Homo sapiens: one gene and its partners. The protein of the gene in region 4 interacts with the protein of the main gene of each other region in a biochemical or structural test. Each region holds a gene or a part of one and is shown on either strand. Other genes may lie near its edges.

Region 1 (4,632 bases), on a different chromosome or scaffold from region 4:
GGCTGGGCACTGGGCGGGCAGACCTGGGAGGAAATCCAGGCAGAGGTGGCAGCCTGAGCAAAGGCGTGGAAGGGAAGAGGAGCCCAGGCAGTTCAGAAATGGTGGATAATTAGGCAAGACAGGCTGGGGACAGGTGTGCGAGTGGTTGGGAAGGGGAGGGGCACCACACGGGGTAGAACCTAGGGCCTGGGCCCAGCGGGCAGTGTGAGCTCTCAGCAGGGTCATGACATAGGACGCCCCCTCTCTCTGATGGACCTTGAGGTGTGGGCTGAAAGCAAGGCCAGAGGCAAGTAAGCTGGACTGGTGACGTGCTGACCCAAGAGGTGCACAGGCACATAAAGGAAGGGCTGGCAAAAAGAGGCAGGAAAACCCAGGAGACACTGGGCCCCCGGGAGAAGACCGAGAAGGAACTGATGGTAGTGATGGTGTTTGCCATGTGTAAGGCCCTTGTTCAGTCTTCCCAGAACAGTCAGGTAGGTACTATCATTATCCCCTTTTATCTATGGGGAAACTAAGGCCCACAGGTTAAGTAACAGCACACAAGTGGTGAGCACACAAGACCTCACAGCACACAAGTGGTGATGCCAGGATTCAAACCAAGGCTGCTGGCTTAAGTCCAGGGATTCAACCATCAAAGCAGAATTTAGCTTGTTAGTTCAGACAAATATTCCAATAAAAATCACACTTAGTGTTAGGAAGTAACGCAGATTCCATTTGAGATCTCCCTAAAAATTCTAATAAAGCAAATCAAGTTAAAAGCTTGGGCAGGAAGCTACAGAGAACCTCTGAGAGTAGCATGGAGGTACAGTAAGGGTGGGCACTCCCTCCTATCACCAAGGGTGACTCTCACACTGGCAGTAAAGGGGCCAGGACCTCTGTCCCGGTCCACCTCTCAGCTGCACAGCCATGGAGCTGACATACAGCTGGTCCACAGTAAACTGGACTGGGCTCAGCCAAGGGTCTGAGATTGTTGCAAGTGAAAGAGACTCCAATGTCCCTCAGTCCACTGACTCTCAAACTGCATTTTGTGACTTAGAGGCTCCCAGTGCCCTGGGGCTCCCAGTCCCTCTGTACCCCCTCACTTTCTCCAAAAAAAGCAGAGAACCTCATTTTATGAATTAGAGGACTTCCTATAAGATTTAGACAGAAAGAGTTTCTCCCATCACTTAAAAGATTTGAACAACACTGATCTGAGCTACACCTCAATGACCCAGCCCCTGAGTCTCTTCTGGACACCTGTGCCAAGGGTCACCCCTGGTGTCTGGCTCCTGGGTCAGCATGACTTGAAAGGAAGACCTTTTTAGGGAGCCTGTTCTCTCCTCTGTAATGACAGGGTCTTCGTGAGAACTGTGAACTCCATAGCTCTGTTGACCTACTGGTTGAGCTGAGGCCTCCACTGGGTATAGCCACAGCCAGTGCTGGCTCAGGGGCTACCTCCACCTTGTGGTTGGAATCGGATAGCTTAGGTTGTCACAGACACTACAGTACTTCTGATGCACAGACACTGTAGATATCCCCAATTAAAGAAGAGGACATTGAGGTTCAGAGAGGTCAAGTTGCTACTCTGGAGTCAGGCTGGGCAAAGAGCCCGAGGTGAGTCACACCACAGCCAGCACCTGTTCTCTGCTTGCTGCCACCAGAGGCCCCCAAAACCAAGCATGAACCTGTCCTCCTGGCCAACCCCAGTCTCCTGCCTCACACAGGAAGAATTCACACCAGAAACACTCTTTAAGTCTGGAAGGCAATGACTGCATCCTTGATTGGGTTGTCCATGATAGGGATTTTCTGTGCCTGTGTAGTATGGGGCTAGGGCATGGGTTTCCAGGTTGCTCTCATGGGATAAGGGGTCAGAGAAAAGGGAGGAAGAATGTGGCCACTCTTAGAACCCCTGTGGGCCTATCTCACTCCTGGTAAGAGGCAGGAGCCCAGCAAGAGGAGTGGCTTCTGGATGGAAGACAATAGCTCAGTTTTTGACATGCTGAGGATGCATTGGTGCACTGGAGATTAGAAACGGGGGTCTGGGCCGGGCATGGTGGTTCACGCCTATAATCCCATAACTTTGGGAGGCCGAGGCAGGCAGGTCACCTGAGGTCAGGAGTTCAAGACCAGCCTGCCCAACATGGCGGAACCCCATCTCTACTAAAAATACAAAAAATTAGCCGGGCGTGGTGGCGGGTGCCTGTAATCCCAGCTACTCGGGAGGCTGAGGCAGGAGGATCACTTGAACCTGGGAGGCAGAGGTTGCAGTGAGCCAAGATTGCGCCACTGCACTCCAGCCTGGGCGCTAAGAGCAAAACTCTGTCTCAAAAAATAAATAAATAAATAAATAAAAGAAAAGAAATGGGGGTCTGGAGCTCAGGAAAGATGTTTGGTGAGGGGATGAGGAACCTGCTCACAGCGCCCTCTTGTGAGCTGACCAATTCTTCCTTTAGGAAAAAAATCTAGTGAGCCCAGCCAATGGCATCAGCTGCCCTGGCACGGTACAAAGCACTTGATACTTGTACCTTCACTTAATCCTGACAGAATACTGAGAACAGTTGGGGGGTGGGTGGAGGTGGTGATCAGGAAGGGAAAGGGAACCCCCTTCACAGAGGAGGAACCTGAAGCACCCAGGGCAGTGATGAAGCTGAGGTTCAGGGGGCCCTGGCCTCGCCCTAGGTACCTGTGACCCAGGTTCTCCCAGCCCAGCGCATGCCCTCCACGGACAATTCACAACCAGATGCTGACAAAGGGCACTGGTGTCTGGATGTACTGAGGAGCCCATGCTGACTCTTGGTGTCCATATGTACATTATCTAAGTCCTTAAGTCACTCAGAAGATACTTACTGAGTTGGTCCAGGGCCGAGGGTGGCATAATTACTGTGGAAAGAACATTTAAGAAATATTAAAAAATAAAAATAAAAAGGACAGACCAAAGGCAAGATGCAGTTTCTTTATATCTAACAAAAAGCCTTAAACTGTTTTTAGGGTAGCCAGAATGTCCCAGTGATCTTTCATGAAGAATCTTACTTGATGTAATTTATTTTGGGAACTGAATGGTTATCAGCCATAAACCTAACCATAATTAGCACCCCACCCCAACAGAGCAAGTCAGGGATAAATCCCAGCACCATTTTCACAGTAACACTAGCTTCTGACTCCCACATGCAAAGTAAGTACTGTTGAAGGCTACAGCATTGCAGACTTAGGGCAGGAAAAGTTACTATTCAAATAAAAACAAGCACATACTCTTCCCTCCTTTCTCCACATCTGACCTGTCATTAGGCCCTGCTAGCATGGACACAGAGAAGCAGCGGTACTGTGTGGAGAAGCGGTTTTGGAAGACCCTGGGAATAGGGTGGTCGAACATGTTGAAAGAGAACTAGAAGGAGGAAAGAGAAACAAGTATTAAAACAAAGGTACATTTCTTCATGTCAAAAGCCAAAACATGTCAGAGTAATTAATGCTACTAAACATTGTCAGAGAACACAATGTACTGAAATCTTCAATGTAATCTTACTAAATACAAAACAGGCCATGCCAAGCCTGTCCTGAACCTTTTTCAGGGCTATGCTCCCATCTTCATCCTCAGGATCAAGGCCCAACCTCTTGCATACCTCAGAGACTTGTACTGACAGCCCCACAGACTCCTGCCTGGGCTAGTTCCTCTGCCTTGAACACTTTTCCTATTATCATTAATCTAAACAATATTTGTTAATTGAAACATCTCTTTATTGAGTGCCTACTGTCTGCCAGGCTCTGATATGAGCACAAGGGAAGCACCACTCCAGTGATGTCTGTCCACTAACAAAATAGATACCACCCCTGTCCTGGTGAAAATGACACTCAAAGCAAGAGAGATATACACTCCAAGCAACGGACACACACACATGTGTGTCTGGCAGTTCTGAAGACAAGCAGCAGGGTAAGTAGACACAGGGCTCCTGGGAATGCTATTTTAAATAGGTGGTTAGGAAGGGACTCTGCACAAAGACCTGAATGCTATGAGAGGGAGCCAGGCAAAAAAGAGGGAAAGACATTCCAGGCAGCAGGAAGAACAGGTACCCAGTGGTTGCACCCCTTCCCCTGGGTTCCAATTACCATCCTTTCCTTTCCCCAGGAAGCCTCTCTTGCTCTGCTGAGGGTCAGGTCTAGTGCCTCTCCAGCGTGCTCTCACAGCACAAAGTAGGTACACGTTACACTATGTTATGATGCTTTCTTACAGCAACAAGCAAAGCTAAAACATGATGCCATTAAAAAGATAAGATCCTAGATCTTAAACTGTAGACTAAGATGAGGCTTAGCAAACATGTATCAATTTGAAGGTTTTCTCAAAGTACAGTATTCCTCCCACCCCCCACCCCCATATCCACAGGGGATACATTCCAACATCCCCAGTGGACGCCTGAAACCACAGATAATACTGAAATCTATACATACTATGTTTTTTCTTATACATATCTACAATTTTCTTATACATATCTACAATAAAGTTTAATTTATAGGCTGGGTGCGGTGGCTCACGCCTATAATCCCAGCACTTTGGGAGGCAGAGGCAGGTGGATTACCTGAGGTCAGGAGTTTGAGACCAGCCTGGCCAACATAGTGAAACCCTCTCTCTACTAAAAATACAAAAATTAGCCGGGCGTGGTG
Region 2 (4,632 bases), about 52 Mb from region 4:
AGCAAGACTCCATCTCAAAAAAAAAAAAAAAAAAAAAAAAGGAAATTTTTTATCACTACTAGATTGGGAAGGCAATATATCAGTAATAGATTGGCAAATATCACTTGCCTTAAATAGGTAAAGTTATCTGAAAAAAAAAAACAACTGAGAAGCTAAATATCAAAATTAATGTAGAGATATACCATGTTCATGGATTCCCAGAGTCAGCACTGTAAAGACAGCAATTCTCACCACATAGATTTATATATCCAATGTAATACTTATCAAAATTGCAGGCTGCTTTTGTAGAAATAATTGACAGGCTAATTATAAAATGTATATGGAAATGCAAAGAACTTAGCATAACCAAAACAATTTTGAAAGAGAACAAAGTTGGAGAACTTATGCTACCTGATTTCACAACTTACTATCAAACTACTGTAAACAAGCCAGTGTGCTGCTGGTCTAAGAACAGACCAGGATTTCTCAGTCTAAGCACTATGGATATTCTGGGCCGATTTATTCTTAATTGTGGGGGACTGTCCTGTGGCCTCTACCCAACAGATGCCCCCAGCTGTGACAATCACAAATGTCTCCAGACATGGCCAAATGTCCCTTGAGAGGGCAAAAATGCCCCAGTTGAGAACTTCTGGGACACACATAAATCAATGGAACAGAATGGAGAGTCCCAAAATAAACCCTCACATTCATGGTTAACTGGTGGGGTTCTTGTCGCTGTTGTTTTGATTTTTAAGAGACATGGTCTTGCTTTGTTATCCAGCCACAATGCCTGGCTTAGGTCAACTAATTTTTGACAAAGGTGCAAAGGCAATTTGATGGGAAGATGATAGTCTCTACAACAAATGATACTAAAATAATTGAATTCCATCCACAAAAAAGGGGGGTTTAGATCTTTATCTCAAGCCATAAGTGAAACAAATTAATTTGGTCAGCTACAGCGGCTCACACCTGTAATCCCAGCACTCTGGAAGGCCAAGGTGGGCAGATTGCTTGAGTCCAGGACTTTGAGGCCAGCCTGGACAACACGGTGAAACCCTGTCTCTACAAAAAAAATACAAAAACTTTGCTGGGCATAGTGGTACACATACATAGCTGGGAAAACCCAGCTACTTGGGAGGCTGAGGTGGGAGAATCACCTGAGCCAGGAAGTCAAGGCTAGAGTGACATCATGCCGCTATACTCTAGCCTGAATGACAGAGTAAGACCCTATCTCAAAATTAAAAAAAAAAAAAAAAAAAAGAATTAACTCTAAATGGATCAAAGACCTAAATGTAAGAGCTAAAACTATAAAACTTCTAGAAAAGGCCGGGCACAGCGGCTCACGCCTGTAATCCCAGCAATCTGGGAGGCCAAGGCAGGCAGATCACAAGGTCAGTTTGAGATCAGCCTGGCCAATATGGTGAAAACCCCGTCTCTACTAAAAAATCCAAAAATTAGCCGGGCGTGGTGGCTCGCACCTGTAATCTCAGCTACTCAGTAGGCTGAGGTAGAAGAATCGCTGGAACCCGGGCAGAGGCTGCAGTGAGCTAAGATCATGCCACTACACTCCAGCCTGGGTGACAGAGGGAGACTCCATCTCAAAAAAAACCAACAACAACAACAACAACAAAATGCTAGAAAAAAATAGGAGAAAATCTTTGTGACCTTGACCTAGGCAAAGATTTCTTTTCTTTCTATTTGTTTTTTTTTTTTTGAGACGGCGTCTCACTCTGTCGCTCAGGCTGGAGTGCAGTGGCATAATCTCGGCTCACTGCAACCTCTGCCGCGCTCCGGGTTCCAGCGATTCTTCTGCCTCGGCCTCCCAATTAGCTGGGACTACAGGCACATGCTGCCACACCCAACTAATTTTTTGTATTTTAGGAGACATGGAGTTTCACCATGTTGCCCAGGCTGGTCTCAAACTCCTGAGCTCAGGCAATCCACCCATCTCAGTCTCCCAAAGTGCTAGGATTACAGGCGCGAGCCACTGCACCTGCGCTTTTTTTTTTTTTTTTTTTTTGAGATGGTGTCTCACTGTTTGCCCAGGCTGCAGTGCAGTGGCATGATCTTGGCTCACTGCAACCCAACTCCACCTCCCAGGTTCAAGCAATTCTCCTGACTCAGCCTCCTGAGTAGCTGGGATTACGGGCGTGCGCCATTGCGTCCAGCTCATTTTTGTATTTTTAGTAGAGACGAGGTTTCACCTTGTTGGCCAGGCTGGTCTCGAACTCCTGACCTCAGGTGATCCGCCCACCTCAGCCTCCCAAAATGCTGAGATGACAGGCATGAACCACCACACCCAGCCGCCTGTATGATTTTTTTTTTTTTTTTGAGACGGTGTCTCGCTCTTTCACCAGGCTGGAGTGCAGTGGCGCGATCTAGGCTCACTGCAACCCCCGCCTCCCGGGTTCAAACAATTCTCCTGCCTCAGCCTCCTGAGCAGCTGGGACTACAGGTGTGTGCCACCACGCCCAGCTAATTTTTGTATTTTTAGTAGAGATGGGGTTTCACCATGTTGGCCAGGATGGTCTCAATCTCTTTACCTCATGATCCGCCCACCTTGGCCTCCCAAAGTGCTGGGATTACAGGCGTGAGCCACCATGCCTGGGCCCAAGATTTCTTAAACATAACTCCAAAAGCAGTATCCACTTAAAAAGCAGTAAATGAGACTTCGTCAAAATTCAAAACTTTTGCTCTTCAAAAGAAACACCATTAAGAAAATTAAAAGACAAGCCAGACTGGGAGAAAATATTTGCAAATCACATGGCTGACAGGAGAATCCTATCCAGAACACATAAAGAACTCTTTGTTACAACTCCGTAAGATAAACAATCCAGTTTTTGAAAATTGGACAAAAGACTCAAATAGACACTTTTCACACACACACACACACACACACACACACACACACACACACATACGAACAGAAAGCAGGCCAGGTGCAGTGGCTCACCCCTGTAATCCCAGCACTTTGGAGGCTGAGGTGGGCAGATCACCTGAGGTCGGGAGTTCGAAACCAGCCTTCCCAACATAGTGAAACCCCGTGTCTACTAAAAATACAAAAATTAGCCTGGCATAGTGGCCAGTGCCTATAATCCCAGCTACTTGGGAGGCTGAGGCAGGAGAATCACTTGAAACCAGGAGGCAGAGGTTGCAGTAAGCCAAGATTGCACCACTGCACTCCAGGGCAACAGAGCGAGACTGTCTCAAAAAAAAACAGAAAAGGCTGGGCATAGTGGCTCACACCTGTAATCCTAGCACTTTGGGAGGCCAAGGCAGGCAGATCACCTGAGGTCAGGAGCTCGAGACCAGACTGGCCAATATGGTGAAACCTCATCTGTACCAAAAATTTAAAAATTAGCCGGGCGTGGTGGTGCGCACCTGTAATCCAAGCTACTCAGGAGGCTGAAACAGGAGAATTGCTTGAACCCAGGAGGCGGACGTTGCACTGAGCCGAGATCATGCCACTGCATTGCAACCTGGGCGACAGAGCAACACTCCATCTCAAAGAAAAAAGAAAGCAGATCGCTGATGGGCTGAGGGTGGGGGTTGGGGTAGGGACTCTGCAAACAGATGGAAGGAAACTTTTACAAGGGAAATGTCTGCAATTGTGGTGATGACTGCACAATTCTTTTTTTTGTTGTTGTTGCTTCAATGTCCCCTCCTTTTTTTTTTTTTTTTTTGGAGACAGAGTCACACTCTATCGCCCAGCTGGAGTGCAATGGCGTGATCTCGGCTCACTGCAAGCTTCACCTCCCGGGTTCATGCCATTCTCCTGCCTCAGCCTCCCGAGTGGCTGGGACTACAAGCGCCTGCCACCACACCTGGCTAATTTTTTGTATTTTTAGTAGACATGGGGTTTCACCGTGTTAGCCAGGATGGTCTCGATCTCCTGACCTCGTGATCCGCCTGCCTCGGCCTCCCAAAGTGCTGGGATTACAGGCGTGAGCCACCGCACCCACCCACAATTCTTTTTTTTTTTTTTTTTTGAGACGGAGTCTCACTCTGACACCTAGGCTGGAGTGCAGTGGCGCAGTCTCGGCTCACTGCAACCTCCGCCTCCTGGGTTCACACCATTCTCCTGCCTCAGCTTCCTGAGTAGCTGGGACTACAGGTGCCCGCCACCACACCCAGCTAATTTTTTGTATTTTTGGTAGAGATGGGGTTTCACGGTGTTAGCCAGGATGGTCTTGATCTCCTGACCTTGTGATCCACCTGCCTCAGCCTCCCAAAGTGCTGGGATTACAGGCGTGAACCACCGCGCCCAGCCTTTTTTTTTGAGACGGAGTCTCGCTCTGTCACCCAGGCTGGAGTGCAGTGGCGCAATCTCGGCTCACTGCAGCCTCCACCTCTCAGCTTCAAGCAATTCAGCCTGCCTCAGCCTCCCGCGTAGCTGGGACTATAGACGCCTGCCATCACGCCCGGCTAAATTTTTTTGTATTTTTAGTAGAGACGGGGTTTCCCCGTGTTAGCCAGGATGGTCTCCATCTCCTGACCTTGTGATCCGCCCGCCTTGGCCTCCCAAAGTGATGGGATTATAGGCGTGAGCCACCGCGCCTGGCCAGACGACTGCACAATTCTATAATTTAACTAAAAATCATCAAATCATGTTTACAATGGATGAGTTGTGTGGTACATGAACTACATCTCAAT
Region 3 (3,761 bases), on a different chromosome or scaffold from region 4:
AGTCGAGACTGCCATCACTACATTCCAGGCTGGGCGACAGAGTGAGACTCTCAAAAACAAAAAGTATTCTCCTTATAGAGTCTCTAATTCTATTCCCATTAGTCATTTAATCATGCACTTCTTTTCTTTCTCCCCGCTGGAACATTTTTAATTACAAGGTTCAATCTTTCATAGATAACTGTTTGTCTGAATCCTTTCAACGGCTGGCCAGCCAATCTTTTCCTCACAGTCATGTTGCCTAATTAGGCCATTAACTTTACAGTTTTTAGTTTACTACCTGTGTAAGAAAAGCATCTTGCTAAGGGAAATCTAGTTTGTTTACTCGTTCTCTTGGAGTTACTGATATTAAATAGTTTTATATGTATTTGCATTACACATTTAAGAACGTCTTGTTCTTAAAACAGATCAGCAACAAGGAAATCTTTTTGTGACAGGGTTTTGGTCTGTCACCCAGGCTGCTGGAGTGATGACACGATTTTGGTTTACTGCAGCCTCCACCTCCTGGGCTCAAGTGATCCTCCTACCTCAGCCTCCCAAGTAGCTGGGCCTACAGGCACACACCACCATACGCAGCTAATTTTTTTGGTATTTTTTGTAGAGACGTGGTTTTGCCATGTTCCCAGGCTAAGGAAATCTAATCTTTACAACTTTGCCTTCTGAAATCTTACATATACTAACTTATAATTTGCTTTCCTGTTTTGCTTCACTGAGATGTTCTAGAGACGGGAATTAAAACTTGTTTTTTTCTTCCTTAGAGTGCAAAAGCAGTGCCTTACAAACTTAAGCAGGCTTCAGATTATCTGAGATGTTTAAAAGGCAGATTCTGGGACCCATCCCTGATTCAGGAATAGCAGGTACAACATTTTCAGAAACATTGCCTTTAAGGAAGCGGGTATGTCACACACAATTTTAATCTCACAGAAACATAAAATGTGCTAACCTGAATATTTAAAACATATGTTTTATTATTTACATGTTTGCCCCAAGTTATCACCTTACAGTGCTGTTCCATAAGCCAATCTGGAAAAAGTGAGACTTGATTTTGATTGTTTCCTAACAAACAACTGATCTTTGTTTTGTGTGACTCTTGGCTAATTCTATGTTTTCCTTTCTCTATTTTTAAGCTGACCATGGAGATATATTGCCATCAAAGTTTCTTTGAAATTTTGTGTGGGGTGTACAAAGAACAACAGGAGGCCAGCACTTATTAACAAGTGTAACTCTTTATTAAGATGGAATTGTTCTTATTAAAGAAATAGATGAAAATGGTTAAGTACAATTAAATGGCTCCAAAAGTCTTACAATGAAAACAACAGTCCTGCCAGTTGTTCTTTCCAGAGGCAAATACTTTTCATTCTCTTAGTTTTTCCTTCCGTTAGTTACCTTCATGGGTTTTTCCAAATTATTGTTTTTTTTTAGTTTTTCAAGTGAATGCATATATTAATACATAAAATTTTAAAAAGGCTTTTCAGTTTATAATGCATCCTAACAGTCCCCTGCCCCATCCCTCCTAATTCTCCAGAGCAATGACTTTTAACTCTTTTAGCAATGTCTTCTGTTTTTTTCCTCACATAACTTAGTCATTTCATTATTATATATTATATAGTGATTTCTGGATATGACAGATGAGGATTTAGCTCTTACACCATCACAATCTTCACTTTTCCTCCCATATTGTCCCAGAGTAGTTACCATATTTAGGGGCTAAGCAGTCACATCATTATGACTGTGTACATACTGCTCCTTGTTGAGAAAAACAGTGTATTATGCTCTTCCTATCCTGTACTTCTTTCTGCCCTAGAATGATTGCCTAACCAACCCTTTCCCCTTGTTTTTTTTTTTTTTTTTTTTACTTTTGCTTTATCTTCAATGAACTTCTTTCCAAATGCCCCAAATCTGGCAATAAGTTATTATTTTTAAGAGAAGGGATCTCACTAAGGTGGCCAGGCTGGTCTGGAACTCTTGGGCTCAAGTCGTCCTGCTGCTGAGCCTCCTGAGTAGCTGGGACTACAGGCATGGGCCATTCCACCCAGCTAACCGATTAATATTTTTACTGTTCCTTTTTAAAGCTAGCTCCATAGCTGGAATATTGCCTGTGTTGGATCCTATTTGCTGGATTCATGTCATTCTCTGGTTTGTGTACTCCTTCATTTTGCTGGAGTATTTTCTCCAACAGCTTCCCTAAAAAGGGCACATGGAGGTAACCCCTGAGTCTTTGCTTGTCTAAAAATGTATTATTTTACCTTCACCCTTGATTATTTGGGTGAATATAGATTTATCAGTTGAAAATAACTTTCTAGAATTATGAAGGCATGGTTCCATTGTTTTCAGATTCCTTTTCGAGACAAGGTCTCTTCTGTCACCCCGGCTGGAGTGCAGTGGCACAATCACGACTCACTGCAGCCTTGAACTCGTGGGCTCAATTAATTCTTCCATCTCAGCTTCCTGACTAGATGGGAATACAGGTGTGCGCCACAATGCCCAGCTAATTTTTGTGTTTTTTGTAGAGATGGGGCTTTGCCATGTTGCCCAAGCTGGTCTCAAGTGATCTGCCTGCCTTAGCCTCCCAAAGCGCTGGGATTACAGGTGTGAGCCACTGTGCCTGGCTGGTTTTTCTTTTATTTTCTCTCTACTTCATTCATTTCTCAAAGGCATCTGAAACTCCCTGGGCCCAAAACCAAAGTCAAACTCCATCAGAATATCCTGCTACTTATAACTTTAAAATATATCTTAAATCACAATTTCTTACTACATGCAACCCTTTGGTTCAAGCAACCATCATCCCTCACTTGAACTTATAATTGGTTTTCCTGCTTCTGTATTTTTTTAAATTATAAAATACTTCAAATAAACCATGTGTGGCCTTATACTTTTTACTACATAAAAAGAATGAAGATGTGCCGGGTGTGGTGGCTCAAGCCGGTAATCCCAGCACTTTGGGAGGCTGAGGTGGGTGAATCGCTTGCGGTCACGAGTTCGAGACTAGCCTGACCAACATGGTGAAACCCCATCTCTACTAAAAATACAAAATACAAAAATTAGCCGGGCGTGGTGGCGCGCACCTGGTCCTAGCTACTTGGGAGCCTGAGGCAGGAGAATCGCTTGAATCTGGGAAGGCGGAGGTTGCAGTAAGCCGAGGTCACACCATTGCATGCTAGCCTGGGCAACAAGAGCGAAACGCTGTCTAAAAAAAAAAGAACTTACATACTTAAACATCGAATTGCTTTAAGTGTTTGGCATTCACTGTTCCCGTGCATGCCAGCAGCTTCTTACTGCAAACACCTGAGACTTGCTATAGAGCAGCTGGACTATGTTCCGCCCACACACAGGACAGGGAGCTGACAACCAAGGAGGGGGGCGGGATCAATACTCCAGCTTTCCCCCCTCCATTTCCCTGTATCTCAGCAGTATGGAGCTTGTTATCAATGAGAACCTGCTCGCTGACTTTAAATTGCTTTTCTTACCTTCTCAGTTCAGTTTCTCCGTACCTCAATTGATGATTTCTGGTATGACCTAGCAAATACACTGCTTTCACTGAAATTTCAGTCTTGCAATCTGCTTTGGGTTCCCCAATCTAAGACAGAAACATACTCATTTTCCCATCACTGGACTTCCAGGTTGTTTTCAATTTTTCACTGTTACAAACAAGGTGGCAACATTTATCTACAAACCTCTGGATATACACGTAGGAAGCTTTTGGTATTTCCACTAGTGAAACTGCTCAGTTGAAGGGTATGTGGATCTTCATCTTTAATAAATAT
Region 4 (2,797 bases):
CACTGGGCCCCACTGGTCTACCTCTGATGCTGGTACTGTCAGTCATCTCCCATGGACCCCTTTGGCCACGCTTGCCGAGAGAGCACTTGTGTGCTAACCTGATCTAAGCCCTTTATATGAATTACTTTAACAGCTCTAAGAGGGAGCACTGTTAACCCATTCAGCTGACATACAGCTGAAGAAATGGAGGCTGGAGAGGTTAGCACTGGCCTGGCCCTGGCGTCTGTCTCCCAGGTCCTCCCTGTTGACCACTCTGCCTTTCAGCTGAGCATTGTACACACACTCAGCGCATCTGTGCGTCACACACCCATGGTTGGTGGCAGCTACAGCAGGTGTGTCCTGTGGATAGAGGGGGTTTTGTTCCAGCTCTTAAGGACAGGGCCAGCACTGTGTTCCTCAAGTGGGTTTGGGCCCTGGCAGACCCTGTGATTGTGGGAGTTCTGTGCTGTGTCTGTGGGTGGAGGGGATGGGCAGGAAGAGACAGCAGGGAACAGCACTGAAGGGTTCCTCCCTGGTGCAGAGAGAATTTGCGCCCATCTGTTGGGGGCTGGATGTCTTGGTCATTGGGTGGTGCTGAGTGACAGCTTCATGAAGGTGCCTGGACATGGGGAGATGTGAAATCAACCTTCTGGCTGTGTTCCACAGCTCCCCATCTCTCCTATGAGAGAGAAAAAGTCTTCTGTTTTTTCTAGACGTTTCTTGAACAAAAGTTCTGAAGATGATGCGGCCTCAGAGAGCTTCCTCCCCTCGGAAGGTGCGTCCTCTGACCCCGTGACCCTGCGTCGAAGGATGCTGGCTGCCGCCGCGGAACGGAGGCTTCAGAAGCAGCAGACCTCCTAGCGCTCCCTTGCCTTCCTCAGCTGCCTCCTGCGCCCTGTGCCCGACTGACTGGAGGAGGCCTGTCCCAATTCTGCCCGCTCCATGGAAAAGCGGGCTTGACTGCATTGCCGCTGTATAAAGCATGTGGTCTTATAGTGTTTGGACAGCTGATAAATTTAATCCTTCTTTGTAATACTTTCTATGTGACATTTCTCTTCCCCTTAGAAACACTGCAAATTTTAACTGTAGGTATGATCTCTTCTGGTGTTGACTGGACTGCTTGGGGTGGGGGACGATCAGGAGGAAGTGAGCAGTCGCCTGCCTGCAGCAGGCAGCTTCTACTCCTGCCTCATGCGTACGTCCCACAAATGCAGGTGTCCTGAGCACCACACCCAGTGGGAAGAGTGTGGGGGAGGCGCACAGTGTGAGCCCGCCCCCACGTCGTGGGGTAACATCTGTTATCAAACTGCTGTCGTTGTTGTGGAAGCATGTAGACTGTGCCAGAGGCCAGACCCACGGGCTCATGCACCCCTGAGCCAGCAGGGCATCTTGGAAAAGGAACTCTTGGTTCGATACCTGGAGCAGAGGAGGGGAAAGTCCAGGGCTATAGGGTGTGATGAAGTCACCCCTTTCTGTCCCACTACATCTGGGACTGACTTTCCGAGCCTCCAGTCCAAAGCCGGCTTGATTTCCGTGAACTCTGGTGCTCCTGCATCTCATGAGTGTGCCCCATGGGTCCCCTCCCCTCTCAGCATTTCCTTGTCCCGTCTGGACCTGGGGAGTGGTTAGGCAGCAAGCTTTGGTTTATGGTTTTCATTCATTGGTGAAGTAAATTAGGCAGTGCTAAAGCCTGTGGGTTTGGTCCTTGAACAAGATGTGGGCCTTGCAAGATGGGAGAGTAAACCTTGAAGGGCTTTATTAAAGAAATAAAAAAGAACTTTTGTATCTTTTATCCTGGGAGCACTGCGTTTTCCTAGCTGTGTTATTCCTGGTTTAATTCAGCAGAGAAGGTAAGGTGTGAACCTACCTGCCTTGGAGAGGGCCCAGGTCCCAAATCTCTTCAAATTCTTCACATGTTTAACTTTAAGGATTTGAACCATGAAGTCATAGGTTACAGACCTCAGTTTTATGCCCCATTGGATTACTTTTTTTTTTTTTTTTTTTTTTTTTTTTTTTACTCTTTGAAAGCTTTGTTTTGTGGTAGTCCTTTTGGGAAGAATCCAGTATTATCCACAATTATTGGCAAAGTTTAAATGTATTTTACATAACGGAAAGTTTTTAGAATGTTGAAAAGTAATTGAAAAAGGTGATAGGTAAATTTTTAGGCAAAGATAATTTATTTCAATAAATCTTTCAAAAGCCTTACCTTGAAATGCTGTTAGTAAATTTCTGTGATTTTTTTTTTTAATTTGTTTTGCTGAGAGCATAGCTATTTGTTTTTATTGTAAAACAATAATAATAATAAAAAGCAAACTCTATTGGTGTGTTGTGTGTGGCTGGAAGCTAAGGCATGTTTTTGTGTGGCTGGAAGCTAAGGCATCTTTTTCCAGAGGTGCCAACGTTAAACCCCATTTTGATTTGGATTTTGTGTATACTATTTTGGTTGGAGGGTTTTTTCCCATGTTTTTGAATTGGGAACTTTTGTTTTTCCTAGTAGTGTATTTGGGGAAGGCAGAACTACATTTTTCTTCCCCTTGTATTTATATCTTTTTTTTTTTCAGGTAAGTGTGTAGCGAAAGATTATTTTACTGTCCTCGAATTACATTATACTTCACACGTTGCACCCATTGTAGGTGCCACTAATTCCACATGTTCACAGGTTTCTGATGTGTGAAAAGAGAAAATTACTTGGATCAATTTTAGAGGGTCTTGACACATTACAAAACAGCCATATCACAGTGTTTAGAGCAGGAGCTTATTAAGTAGCTTAAAATGATGCAAGAAGTGAAGTTCTCAGTCCGCCCTTCCATTTTACACC
Region 5 (4,632 bases), on a different chromosome or scaffold from region 4:
TGAATGGCACCATTGAGGATTTCAAGGCGGGCAAATGAGATGATCAGACCCCTATTTTAAAAATATCCAAGAGTGTAGTGTGACAGACTGGAAGGGAAAGTAAGGTGGTTGTTAGGAAGCTTCTGCCACAGTCCAGGTGAGAAAGGATGAGGGCCCGAGCCTTAGCAGTGCAAGGGAGAGAGGAGGATATACCAGAATTTGGTGACTGATGGGATATGATGCTAAAAGAGACAGTGAGATAGCCATGTTCATGGCAGCACTATTCACAGGAGCCAAAAGGTGGAAGCAACCCAGTGTCCCTGACAGATGACTGGATAAACAAGATGCGGTATATACACACAATGGGATATTATCCTGCCTTACAAAGGAAGAAAATTGACACAACAACATGGATTAACCTTGAGGACATTATGCCAAGTGAAATGAATCAGTCAAAAAGGACAAATATTGCATGATTCCACTTGTATAAAGTACCTAGAGTGGCCAAATCTTAGAGACAAAAAGTTGAATGGTGGTTGTCAGAGGCTGAGAAAAGGGGAGAACAGGGAGTCATTGTTTAAAGGGTACAGAGTTTCTGTTTTGCAAGATGAAAAGAATTCTGAAGACAGACAGTGGTGATAACTGCAAAACAGTGTGAATGTACTCCAATGCCACTGAACTGTACATTTTAAAATGGTTAAGATGGTAAAGTTTATGTTATATGTATTTTATCACAACTTAAAAAATAAAAAGAGAGAGAGGGAGGTAGAATGGATGATACCATACACCTCTCAATCTGGGGCACTAAAATGGATGGCCGCTCCTTTAACTGAGCTCCAGTCCATAGGGAGAGGAATGCAGGGGAGGAAAAAGAGAATTCAGAGTTGCACAGATGTCCAGATCCAAAATGAGCAGAGAACATGAACTTTTCCAAAAAGTCTTTCTGACAGGATCAGCATCATCTCTCACATTCCAAAGCTCTAAAAATGGTACAACTTTAAAGGTAATGAACTACTGTCCAAAAGGGACAGCAAGTGACTTCTTGATTATGATTTTAGAAAAGCAGGATTTTAGGGTACACATGGCAAATGACACAAAGACATCCATTTCACTCCTTTCTGAAACCCCAATCAAAGGACAGCAAAGGGATTTTTTCAAGACATAAGCTATAGCACTAAAGTCTGGAAAGCTGGACGGCAGGTAAATGAATGCTAAAAGACTAAGATGGCAACAGAGCTGAATCCTAGGCCAGCAGCAGGGAAAGCCAAGATCCAACCTGATCTTCACCCCAGAATGCCCAAAAGACTCCAGAACTGGCAATTCAAGATAACTCTGGAAGATGGGGTGAAGTAGGAGCTAAAATAAAGAGAAAGGTTTTCTATGTAGCCGTCAGAGCCCCAAACCTCACCTCCACTCCAAGAGGCCCCTCCCTCTCCTGGCAAAGAACTAGAGAGTGATTCTCTAAAGCAGACAAAAACAAAGGTTTCAGCGCTGGGGAAGAATGAGCTTAGTTAAGAATAGAGGCACCATCACGAACATGGGGACTAAGAGAATGTATGTGTATCAGTCCAGATTTGGTCAGAAAATAGATGCTATTCAGGTATTACAGGCAGGAAGAGATTTGATACAGGAAATTAAAAGCTTAAAAAATCATGGAAAGGGCATGAGAGCCACAGTCAGAGAAATCACTGCCTATGTTCAGGAACTCAGGATGTACAAGCGTCACAAGAAACTGCACAGATGACGTCAGAATCCCCACCACTGAGGTAACTGTGTCCCAGAAGGACACTCAGATGCTGCTAGGAAAACCTCACATCGACCAGGTGCCACAGTTGCAATAGCAAAGTGGCTTCTCCTTCTCTTTTGCCTTCTAAATCTCTTACTGGAAAAATCAGTATCAGAATCTTGCCACCAAGGGACTCTGGGAAATGCAATGTCCAGGAGCCAGCCCCTGCAATGATGGGAGAAGCTTAGCAAAGCAGGGACACAGCTGAGAACCTACAGGCAATATCCAGCTGGTATCGAATACCCAGATGCTGAGACCACCTTCACCCTCCACTCCCACTCAGTTCCCTAAATACTGGTAGACAGGCCTGTATTTTCCAGGCAAGAGATTAGAATAGTCTCCTACCTGGTAGCCAAAGGAAGAAAAAAAAATCACACTAACATTTAAGCTTCCCCAAAGAAACAGCCCAGCCAGGTCACCCTACAATGAAACTCACAGTTCAGAGAATAAAAAAAAAAAAATCCTATCTATGAAATAGTAAATTCCCAGCTCAAGTAGCTCTAATTTTTTCAAAAAGTGTCAATCAAACTCTCTAAATTTTAATTTGCTTCAAAAAGAATGTGCATGCAACATATGACATCTATGGTTGAGCTAAAATTAAGATAATAATTTAATGTGAACCCATAGGCTACATTTCAGGTGAGGTAAGTGACTGGAATAAGTGGTTATATCTTCTTGCCTAAACTCTAGAACTTTGGTTTCCAAAGTAAGGCCTGGTAACCCTCTGACACCCCAGAGTCTTTAAGTAATTTGGGAGGTCAAAACTATTTTCATAACATGAAGTTACTTGCCTTTCTCTCTCTCATTCTCTCATAGCACACAGTGGCATTTTCCCAAGGCTACGTGACATGCAATGACATCATTTCAAAAGCCAATAGAATGTAATTGTTCAAATTGTTTTAAATTTTTCTCAGTTTTAACTTCTAATATGGTAAATAGCAACAGAAATCACACAAAAGCTTTTTGCGGTTCTCAAAAATAGTTAAAGAGTATAAAGAGGTCAAAAAGCTTGAGAATCACTGCTCGAGAACAACTTTTCAGCTAGTTGCTTTTGGAAGGAAGCTTTTGACATGTGAAACTAATAAGATTTACTTTAAGTTTATATCTTCAAAGTGGAAAAAAGTCTGTCTGCTCTGAAATTTTGCTTTACTACCTTGTATCAGTTTATCCATCAGGAGGAAGAGTTTTCCACAGAGATCCTAAATTAACTTTTTTTTCTCCCTACAAGTAAACATTATGATGGGAAGTCTCATTGACTGCAAGGCAACGTGCATAGTACAATGGTAAAATGCAGAGAATCTACAGGGACTCAAACAAATACTTGTACACCAACAACTGAAGCAGCTTTATTCACAACAGTCAAAAGGTAGAAACAACCCGATGTCCATTAACAGGTGAATGGACAAATAAAATGTAATACATGTACATATATATGATGGAATATTATTCAGCCTTAAGAAGGAAGGAAATTCTGATGCATGCTACAACACTGAACCTTGATAACATTATGCTAAATGAAATAAGCCAGACACGAAAGGACAAATACTGTGTGATTCCACTTATATAAAGTGCCTAGAATAAGCAAATTCATAGAGACAGAAAGTTGAATGGACATTACAAGGGGCTAGGAGAAGGGAGAAGTGGGGGTTTATTGTCAAATGGATACAGAGTTTCAGTTTGGAAGGATGAAAAACTGGAGATCGACAGTAGTGATATTCACACAACAATGCATAGTGATAGTTACACAACAATGCGAATGTAATTTAATGCCACTGAATTGTACAATTAAAACGAGTTAAAATGTTTCCATGCGAATGTAATTTAATGCCACTGAATTGTACAATTAAATCGAGTTAAAATGTTTTGTTTGTTTGTTTTTTGAGACAGAGTCTCGCTCTGTCGCCCAGGCTGGAGTGGAATAGCGGGATCTTGGCTCACTGCAACCTCTGCCTCCCAGGTTCAAGCGATTCTCCCTGCCTCAGCCTCCTGAGTAGCTGGGACTACAGGCGCCCGCTACCCAGCCCGGCTAATTTTTGTATTTTTAGTAGAGACGGGGTTTCACCATGTTGGCCAGGCTGGTCTCGAACTCCTGACCTCATAAGGTGATCCACCCACCTCAGCCTCCCAAAGTGCTGGGATTACAGGTGTGAGCCACCGCGCCCAGCCAAAATGGTTTTTTAAAAACAGATTCTAGAGTCAGACAATTCAGATTCACATCCCAGCTCTCCTACTTACTCTCTGGGTGATCTTTGTACTTGAGTTTCCTGATCTGCAAAATGGTAATAGTATATAACATAGGGTTGTTGTGATGATTAAATGAGTTCATGTAGGTATAATAATATATGCAATAATTAGAAGGCTTGGAATGATGCATGGCACCTAGTAAGTGCCCTATCACTCGGTCTCAAACTTTGGCATGTCTCAGAATCATGCAAAGAGCTTATTAACACACAGACTGCTACACCCCCACCCCCAGATCTTCTGAAACAGAATTAGCAGTTCCCAAGACATGCTAGTGCTGCTGGTTCAGGGAGCACGCTTTGAAAACTGCTCTATATACATGTGAGATGTCATTATTATTACTGGCAATGCCTGAGAGAATACCAGGCACACCACTAAATACTTGTGGAAGAAAGGACAGAAAGACAGAGGATTCACTGAGCCCCTAACATGAAGTGTTCCCACAAGTAGATGGAGATCTCAAAGTCTTTCCTGGTGGATATCTAAACCAGCCACTCCCACCTGATGGCCCCTGTCCATCAGAGTTTCCAAAGACTCCCAGGAAGACAAAGAACCAACAGTGACATCTCAATATCACCGAGCCATCTCAGAGCTTTCAAAAATGGGAAAAAAGCTCCTTCTTAAAA
Region 6 (4,632 bases), on a different chromosome or scaffold from region 4:
ACAAGTAAGCCTCATTCCCAACCTCCAGTCTCCCAGTTCCCCAACAACAGCTGATCAGTGTCTTGTATTTCCTCTAAGAAATACATGTTACTATTACTCATTCTTCTTTATCCTACTCTATACGGCACTGTTTTATACCTTGGTTCATTCCCTACAAAATATTTTAATTGGCTTCATAGTATTCCTTGTATGTGAATGTCTAAACTTTTGTTTAAACTGTTACAATGCCACAATGAATATTCTTGTATATCCTCTTTATATGTGCATATACAGAATAAGTTCCTGTCAATAAATCTGCTAGAGCAACAGACATAACCATTTATTTTGGTAGATACTGCCAAATGCCTACAAAAATGTTTGCTCAATTTATACTTCCTCCTAAAAAGTAGATGAATCCTGTCTTCTCTCCATACTCTCACCATTTCATGTATTATATATTCACCAATCTGAAAACTAATTTTTATTTGCATTATGAGAAGTCAAGCACCTTTTCACGTTTTAAAAACCTGAGCATTTCCTTTATTCATTTGTTTTTCTGGATTTACATTTTTTTTTTCCCCCCCGAGATAGGATCTTGCTCTGATGCCCAGGCTGGAGTGCAGTGGCATGATCCTAGCTCACTACAACCTCCACCTCCTGGACTCAGGTGATTCTCCCACCTCAGCCTCCCAAGTAGCTGGGACTACCAGCATGCACCACCACACCTGGCTAATTTTTATATTTTTTGTAGATACAGGGTCTCCTGATGTTGCCCAGGCTGGTCTCAAATTCCTGAGCTCAAGCAATCCACCTGTCCTGGCCTCCCAAAGTGCTGGGATTACAGGCATGAGCCATCGCACCTGGCTGCATTTCCTCATACATTATGAAATTTCTCTTTCTCATCATTGCAAGCATTTTCTGATGTCATTAGACTTTCATGGTGTTTTTGCCATATTTTGACATACAAAAGTTTAATTAAATGTAGGCATATGTATCCATGATGTGTCATGTTTAGAAAGTCTTTTCGCTCCAAGAATGTAAGTGTTCATGGTTTTATTTTAGCACTTTCAAGGTGCATCCAAGGAATGAGGAAGAGATCCAACTGTTTTTCTAAATAGTCACCCAGTTTTCCCAACCCCATTTACAGAGTAACCCACATTTTTTCCAATTATTTGAAAAACTACTTTCATTGAACGTTTATACTCTAGTCTCTTTTACATGTAGGTCTATTTTAACACCATTCTGTTTGGAATTGGTTCCTATGCCAATATCAAGTTATTTTAATTTCTATTTTCTTTTTTTTTTTTTTTTTTGAGACAAGGTCTCAGTCTGTTGCTCAGGCTGGAGCGCAGTGTTTTGACCACAGCTCACTGTAACCTCAAATTTCTGGGTTCAAGCAATTCTCCACTCAGCCTCCCAAGTGGCTAGGACTACAGGCATGTACCATCACACCTGGTAATTTTGTTTGTTTGTTTTTTGAGACGGGCTCTTCCTATGTTGTCCAGACTGCTCTCAAACTACCAGCCTCAAATGATGCTCCCACCTCAGCCTCCCAAAGTGCTGAAATTATAGGCATGAGCCACTGGGCCTAGCCTAGTTTCTATTCCTTTTATAACATATTTTAATAGCTGGTAAAGTTAAACAGCTAAATAATATCTCCCCCTTTTTTTCTTCAACAATTGTCACAATTTTCTTGGTTAGTCTCAATATTTTATTTTTCTAAATGAATTAGAACCATTCTTTTATTATATCCATGTGATATTGATATAATTCCCAGCCAAGAAGTTTTTCATAGCTTTTAGAGTTGTCTATAGAGCTATCTCTTTCTACCTTTTTATACTTAACCACAAAAGCTGAGTATCTTACTGCCTACAATATTGAAAATTGAGCTTCGGCCGGGAGTAGTGGCTCATGCCTGTAATCCCAGCACTTTGGGAGGCCGAGGTGGGCAGATCACCTGAGGTCGGGAGTTCGAGACCAGGCTGACCAAGGTGGAGAAACCTTGTCTCTACTAAAAACACAAAATTAGCCGGGCGTGGTGGCACATGCCTGTAATCCCAGCTACTCGGGAGGCTGAGGCAGGAGAATCGCTTGAATCCAGGAGGCAGAGGTTGCAGTGAGCCGAGATCACAACACTGCACTCCAGCCTGGGCAACAAGAGCGAAACTATGTCTTAACAAAAAAGAAAATTGAGCTTCTTGGGCTTTCCAAGCATACAACCCTAGCTGTAAATAAACTTTTGTATCTTATTTCATTCTTGTCTAATTCACTGGCTGGCACCCCCACCAGAACAATGCTAAATAGTGATTGAAGCAGATGGCCTTCCTAAACTTTTGGAAATGGCAGCAAAATGCTGGCTTTTGGTGTGAGAGATATGTGTCTATCTCATTGCACACTAGCATGTACCAAGCACAAAAGACATGGCCCCTGAATTCCTCAGAGTAGTGGGGAAGGCTGTCAAAGGAAGAAAGGGTTGGCACAAGGGAGGGGACATGTGGACTTGTTACAAAGGCCCCAAGAATTGCAAGAGCACAATAACTGAATGGGTACTGCTAACAATTCAAGTGTGGCTGGAATGGAGGACGTCAGTCACGGGGACTGGCCACATACAGACTGGCCAGTTCCATTCTCCAAGTACAGGAATGTAACCCTCAGAGCTTAATTCCTTGTAGAGGGAAATGCAATGTGCATACCAAAAAAGTGACTTTCCAAGAAACGTGTATTAAACCAGAAAAATAAAATAGTTTAACATTTGGTTTGATTCATTCACAACTTTATCACAGAAACAGGATAGTTTAGTGGAAAGGGAACTGGAGATGACTTGAGAAGACCTGGGTTTAAGTTTTTGCTTATAAGTCACCACTTCCGAGCCTCAATTTCCATAGTTAATTTTTTTAAAGAAATCAATAAATTAATGTGCTACTCAGCTTATTTACACGCACTGATTCAGGAGACGGATTTCATAGATGAGGAAACAGGATGAGAAAAGGTTAAGTATCAGCCAGTAAGTGGTGAAGCTAGAATTTTATCCCAGACAGTCTGACTCCAGAGTTTGTGATACTAAGCCCCTATTTTTACAATCCCTCTCACAAATGGCGTCAGTATTATGAGGTACAATTACAATTAGTGTAAGTGTTCACTACTACAGACACTTGTGTAATCCTGAAATAGACTCAGAGTAAACCTACTAATTAATTCTCTGTGCTTAAGAAAAGGACTGGGAGTAAAGACCAGAAGCAAACCCTCTAGGTAGCCCTGGACCCTTGGAAAAGTATGGACGTCAAATTGGCTTCATCATCTACCCAATGACATTATCCTATGACTTCTGCCTTCCTTATCTTACAGGATTTGTAAAAGGTTGGAATTAAGAAAGTGAATTAAAAAGATACTATGCAAAAAGAATTAATATGTGTGGGTGTGTTAATTGTATTATCACAATCTTTTCGGAAACACCCGCTAACCAGTTTTTATAAATTCATATTTCAACTACCCCCATATTCCTATAAGTTACTCAAGGCCTGGTTTTGGAAAAGAAACCTTGTTTTTGTCTGACTACATTTTCTCTAATGCTGATGACATAAGACTATTTTTAGTCACTGTTTGCACCTGTTCTTTGGAAATCAGTGTCTGTCAAAATATCTCACTTCTTTTCCCTGTTCATTAAGCCTACCCTTGAGTTATACTTGCTTTCATTGATCTAAAAGACTTAATATTATTTTTGTGTTACTTTAAAATTATAATCTGAAAACACCAGAAGACAGCTTATCTCTTTAGAAGGACACAGTGTAACATATTTCGGAAATCCCCATTGTAAGTATCCAACTAAATCCCATTTTTTCCTCGACCTGATATGTAAACAGTAAGGAGAAGGAACTGGCTTTACGTTCAGTGCCAGGAGTGAAGAGGCCCATTTTCAACCCTGGAAAGCCTAAGAGGCAGCCAACTGCAGCACAAAGAGCCACGACTTGCAGACAGAGGACTGCCTGCCTCACACTTACTGAGAGGACTCGTGGGGGAGTATCTCATTTTAAGTCCACAGCAACCTCAAGGCCAGGCCCATAATGATCCCAGTTTTTTCAGGAGGAAAGCTGGGCCCTAATTAGAGTTCCTCACTTAACAAGGACATGTAGCCCATGTGCTCACTGCTATATACACCCTTAAAGAAGACATAAGACATTGTTCCTCAGTTATTAGTCCAACAACTTCAGAGTGTAGGTTGCAGCCATCCTTTAGCTAAAATCTTCTAAACAATCTGCTACTGAAATAATTTGCCATCCAGAATCTAGTGTTTTTTTTTTTAAAGTATGAAAAGTGAGGATTTGTCTGAAATAATAAGGATCACTTGATTCGGACTTAAGTATATATCAGTCACCAAGCAAGAAAGATGATGAGCACCTGTGTGACAAATGCTAGTTTAGTAAACTGTGGCCTTTTTTGCTGGGTGGGGAGACACAACGGGTAGGCAAGAAAAGGCCCCTTCCATTCATTTAAACAAATGAAAGGCACTTAATCTTTAAAAAGAGCAATTAGAAGCCATCAAATCTACTCCTAGATATATAGGCAACAGAAATTACTATTTCTCCTCACCAAGAAGTACATATGTTCACCAAGACATGTATTAGAATGTTCATAGCAGCACCATTCATAATAGCC
Region 7 (4,632 bases), on a different chromosome or scaffold from region 4:
AAATAGCTAATCGATGCTGGGCTTAATACCTAGGTGATGGGATGCAAACCACCATGGCACATGTTGACCTATGTAACAGACTTGCACATCCTGCACATGTACCCCTGAACTTAAAAGTCAGAAACAAAAAAAATAAAAATAAAAAGCTTTTTTAACTTTGAAGACAAATGTGAGAAACTCCGGAGTCAGCTTTGGACTCAGGGAACTTGACGTCCATACTTCAGCCCCTTTTAATGAGGACTAGGCCTAAATGTGTAGGATTAGCGTCTATCTTTCTCTCCCACATTATCGCTTGGGACATTTCAAAGACATTTCAGGAGGTAATTTTTCTAATTTTTGATTATTTTGTTTTCAAAATAAAGGCAAATTTGGACATTGACTGATTTATTTTCCTCATACTTTTTAAAAAACAGCTTTTGATAATTCATGCACCAAAAAAACACCCTTCTAAGGTATACAATTCAGTGTTTTTTAGTATATTCATAAAGCTGTACAAGCAGCATCACTATCTAATTCTAGGACACTTTCATCACTCCAAAAAGAAATGCATACCAATTAACAGTCACTCACTATTCCCTCCATCAGTCCATAGCAGCCACTAACTTAATTTCCCTTTATATGGACCTGCTTATTCTAGGCATTTCATATAAATGGAATTACACAGTATGTGGCATTTTGTGTCTGGCTTCTTAGCATGTTTTCAAGGTTCATCCATGTTGTAGCAAGTATCAGGACTTCATTTTTATAGCCAAGTAATATTCTACTGTGTAGATATGGTGGTAACATGTTATTTACCCATTCAGTATTTGACAGAAGTTCAATAGTTTTGTATGCACTCATAAAAATAAATGTCTCCAGAAATATTAGCATACCATCAGAAGTGTCTGTCTGTGGAGTGTATCCTTCTGAAAGGTTGAAGGTCCCATTATCAGTCCAGGATACCTCTGAGACGTCTGTGTCAGACACAGATAACTCTTTGGCAGCAACCGTGAGGCTAATCTGTGTTAATATAAATAAATACCAGCGGCACATTTTAAACTGCTGAAGGGAATATTTTGAAAAATCCATATGAACCCCCAAAATGACAGAGTAATAAAAACCAAATGGATATTTTTATTTTGAAATCATTCAGTCATCTTACAGAAATATGAGGAGTTTATTAGGAAGATCATTCAGCTTTGTATGCATACATGCATTTACAGTCAAACCACACAGGAACAAATTGAAAACTAAACAAAAAATACCTTAGGACAAAGAGCTGAAAAGTCTAATTCACTGTCATCTTTGTGACTTTTTTCTTTGTCTGCTTCTGTTGAGGAAAAAATTTGGAAGCTTTCAGTTTCCTAGCCAACTCAGACATAGTGCATTTATTTCATTATGTATTCTTACCCCACATTTCTCATATTCTCCAAATACAAATATATATTTCTCATATTCTTAACTACAAATATAATTAAATGTTTGCACATAACAAGCTTCACATATTTGCAAAGGAAATGATCCACATTAGTGGCTCTCTTAATATTGTCCCTGAAACAGCAAAAGCATCCTCCCTGGGAACTTTTTAGAAATGCAGATTCTCAGGCCCTACCCTAGACCTACTGAATCAGAAACTCTGGGCTGGGGCCTAGCAATCTGTCCTTTAATAAGCCCTCCACGTGACTCCGATACATTCTAGTTTGAGAACCTATAAGGTCATAAGCCAAGTTAAAAAGTAAGAGATGATTATATTGGCTTTTCCTGTATTTTCTTTTTCTTTGTGATAGTCCAACCCAAAATAAAACTAAGTAAATCATAAGTAGCACAATAAAGAGTGTTGAAGCCTTTTCTTTCTCCCCTGACACTGTGGATTAAAAAGTCAATTTATTTAATTGTATATTTGAGAAAAGAAGGAAAGCCCAAATAGGAAAAGGATATATATAACTTTGAGGGAGATTAGCTTCTATAATAATATTTAGTAAAAAGCTAAAAGTATCCTCAAATGTATTAAAGAATTTCCTAAAAATAGCTCGCTAATGTCTCATTTCATGCATAGAATCTAAAATATAAACTTTACCTACCAGATCTCTCACGTTTCTTCTGATTAATATATTCTCCAATTCCAAAATCCAGTTTCAGCAGAACTGACTTAATTTTGCTGTAAATTTTTTGTCCAATATCATTACATTTAAACAATGGACACAAAAATGCACACAGTACTGAAAGAAGAAAGAGAGCAGAGGTAAAATGCCTTTCCTTTCAAAAGGCTACGTACATTTCAGTATTTCACAAAATACTACATTTCTTTACTGAAAAACTTAAGTTTTTTTAAGGGAAATGCCATTGTGAAATAAGTTTATAATTTCTATTCTTTTTCTGTAAGGTAAACATTTTCTGCCACCACCCACAAACACACACATGCATCCCACACTTACACAAGTTTATAATTTCTATTCTTTTTCTGTAAGGTAAACATTTTCTACCACCACCCACAAACACACACATGCATACCCACACTTACACAATGCTCACAGTCATTGTTTCCAGGTGCAGTTAGATCAACTCCCTCCTTTCAATCCTTTTATTCTCAAAATTTATAGAAAAATTACATGCCTTCCAGACAACAGTCCTGGTTTAACTGTGTTTATTCAATGCCATTTCACCATGGGAAAGTTATTAGCCTCTCATCAATAATATTAGGATAGTAACATTATTTCTTGGGGTTGTTGTGAAGCATAAATGAAATCAATGCAAACCATCTGAATAATGCCTTGCCCAAATTATTCTTTCATTCCCCAGTCCTCTTCTCCTTTACCTCCTAAACAATGTCATCATGAGGCTGATGTTATATATGACTTCTTTTGGGGAGAATGGATTTGAGCTCTGACCATTTGCCATTTGCATTATGCATTAAGAATACAAAAAGAAGCAAAGATTGCCACACTCTAAGTATTGTATTCCCAATATTTATTTCTTTGTTCGTTTTAGGAAGTGTCCCGTATTATATTTTAAAATAAGAGCTACAAACTCAAATGTCTCTAGAGGCCAAGAAATTGTATGTAAATTTTAAAGTCCATTGTAAGAAAAATTGGAAAATATGGGGGTATGTTAAGTGGAGAGTGCCTGCCCCATCGAAAGGTAGCAGTGCCAGATCATAGTTTTCAGGTGAAGAAAATCCATACTTTTTAATAACATTTTTGGGTGGTCATTGATGTATAATAAAATACATGTATTTAAAGTGTACAATTTGATAAATTTTGACATATGCATACAACTAAGAAGCCATCACCATAATCAAGATAGTGAACATGTCTACCAGTAGACATGAAGTTTTCTCATGGTTTTATTCAACCTTCCTTCCAGTCTCCTGCCTCTTCTCCCTGCCCCCACCCACCTCATCCCCAGGCAACCACTGACCTGCTTTGTCACTAAAGATTGTTTGAATTTTCTGGAATAATATATAAATGGAATCACACTTTTTCATCTGGTTTTGTCTACTCAGTCTAATTATTTTGAGATTTATCTTTAGTGTTGTATGTATCCATTTTTAGTGCTAAGTAGTAATCCATTATATGGATATACCACAGTTTGCTTACCCATTCCTCCAATTGATGGATGTATGGATTATATTCTGCTTTTGGCTACTACATATAAATCTGTTATGAACATTTATGTCTTTGTACTTTCATTTCTTTTGGGTAAGTACCTAGTTGTGGGATAGCTTTGTCATGTAGTAGTTTTTAAGAAACTGCCAAACTGTTATCCAAAGTGATTTTAACATTCTACCTACCCCGCAACAGTATGTGAGAATTCCACTTGCTCTGCATCCCTCCTAATACTTGATGTGGTCAGTATTTTTAATTTTAGCCATTCTGGTAGGGATGCAATGGTATTTCATTGTGGTTTTAATTATTTTTTTGAGCCAAAGAACACGCACGAAGGCAAAGGTGTTGGTGTGTTTTTGGGAGGTGGGGCATACAGCTTTATGTATACTTTTACTGACAAAATTTAACATAAAATTATTCACTTATAATTCTGCCTTTTGCAGCTATTCTTCCAATTTTAAAATAGAGACATGTCTCTAGGAAAATGGAGAAACTTTGTACAGCAGGAGATTAAAGAATAATCAACTTGTATTATAGTTAAGAACTCATCCCCCCTCTTCAAACTACAGGTCTGTTGACCGTAAGGTGATACCATATGCATCACAACACTTAGCCATATGTTCTACTATACTTACACAGTAGATAGCTGAGTATAACCCCAGGAATGTAACTTCCCAAGATCGTAAAAAATGTGCACACACTACAGACCAGGAGACAAAACTGGAAATAATAGAAATAACATGGGATAGTTAAGCATAACACCAAGATATTTCGGAGCACAGGATACACACACAATTGTAAATCTATAGTGACCGGTATAAGTGACCTATCTGGTTATTACAGATTTTTTCCAAAGAGCATTATTTTGCACTAAGGGCTGACTAATGACTGCTGCATTCAACCAGTCTTAGTCCATTTCAACACTTGGTAATAATTATTTTGAGGACACAGGAGCTAATTTCTGGCACAGAGAGTGACAACTCCCATTACTCATGCCTGTGGCTATATTACTGCCAGGTGCAAGAGAACAGAAAACTATTATGTTCCC

Evidence for each region.
Region 1: the proteins of AMFR (region 4) and UFD1 form a complex in vitro, tested with the Homo sapiens proteins (one study listed by BioGRID).
Region 2: the proteins of AMFR (region 4) and MGRN1 form a complex in vitro, tested with the Homo sapiens proteins (one study listed by BioGRID).
Region 3: of the proteins of AMFR (region 4) and DHFR, one has a biochemical effect on the other in vitro, tested with the Homo sapiens proteins (one study listed by BioGRID).
Region 5: the proteins of AMFR (region 4) and USP13 form a complex in vitro, tested with the Homo sapiens proteins (one study listed by BioGRID).
Region 6: the proteins of AMFR (region 4) and DERL1 form a complex in vitro, tested with the Homo sapiens proteins (one study listed by BioGRID).
Region 7: of the proteins of AMFR (region 4) and RETREG1, one has a biochemical effect on the other in vitro, tested with the Homo sapiens proteins (one study listed by BioGRID).

The regions. Positions count from the first base shown.
Region 1 is NC_000022.11:19,472,242-19,476,873, forward strand, and holds part of UFD1 (ubiquitin recognition factor in ER-associated degradation protein 1), read right to left. Parts: intron 3,363-4,632; exon of another isoform or gene 3,362-3,362; coding exon 3,229-3,361; intron 2,860-3,228; coding exon 2,827-2,859; intron 1-2,826. UniProt on the Homo sapiens protein: Essential component of the ubiquitin-dependent proteolytic pathway which degrades ubiquitin fusion proteins.
Region 2 is NC_000016.10:4,627,416-4,632,047, reverse strand, and holds part of MGRN1 (E3 ubiquitin-protein ligase MGRN1), read right to left. Parts: intron 1-4,632. UniProt on the Homo sapiens protein: E3 ubiquitin-protein ligase. Mediates monoubiquitination at multiple sites of TSG101 in the presence of UBE2D1, but not of UBE2G1, nor UBE2H. Plays a role in the regulation of endosome-to-lysosome trafficking.
Region 3 is NC_000005.10:80,625,024-80,628,784, forward strand, and holds the end of DHFR (dihydrofolate reductase), read right to left. Parts: 3' UTR 1,203-3,761; downstream 1-1,202.
Region 4 is NC_000016.10:56,360,952-56,363,748, reverse strand, and holds the end of AMFR (E3 ubiquitin-protein ligase AMFR), read left to right. Parts: intron 1-692; coding exon 693-840; 3' UTR 841-2,297; downstream 2,298-2,797. UniProt on the Homo sapiens protein: E3 ubiquitin-protein ligase that mediates the polyubiquitination of lysine and cysteine residues on target proteins, such as CD3D, CYP3A4, CFTR, INSIG1, SOAT2/ACAT2 and APOB for proteasomal degradation.
Region 5 is NC_000003.12:179,659,056-179,663,687, reverse strand, and holds part of USP13 (ubiquitin carboxyl-terminal hydrolase 13), read right to left. Parts: intron 1-4,632. UniProt on the Homo sapiens protein: Deubiquitinase that mediates deubiquitination of target proteins such as BECN1, MITF, SKP2 and USP10 and is involved in various processes such as autophagy, endoplasmic reticulum-associated degradation (ERAD), cell cycle progression or DNA damage response.
Region 6 is NC_000008.11:123,031,590-123,036,221, forward strand, and holds part of DERL1 (derlin-1), read right to left. Parts: intron 1-4,632. UniProt on the Homo sapiens protein: Functional component of endoplasmic reticulum-associated degradation (ERAD) for misfolded lumenal proteins. Forms homotetramers which encircle a large channel traversing the endoplasmic reticulum (ER) membrane.
Region 7 is NC_000005.10:16,476,790-16,481,421, forward strand, and holds part of RETREG1 (reticulophagy regulator 1), read right to left. Parts: intron 4,305-4,632; coding exon 4,220-4,304; intron 2,199-4,219; coding exon 2,061-2,198; intron 1,310-2,060; coding exon 1,245-1,309; intron 1,000-1,244; coding exon 873-999; intron 1-872. UniProt on the Homo sapiens protein: Endoplasmic reticulum (ER)-anchored autophagy regulator which mediates ER delivery into lysosomes through sequestration into autophagosomes.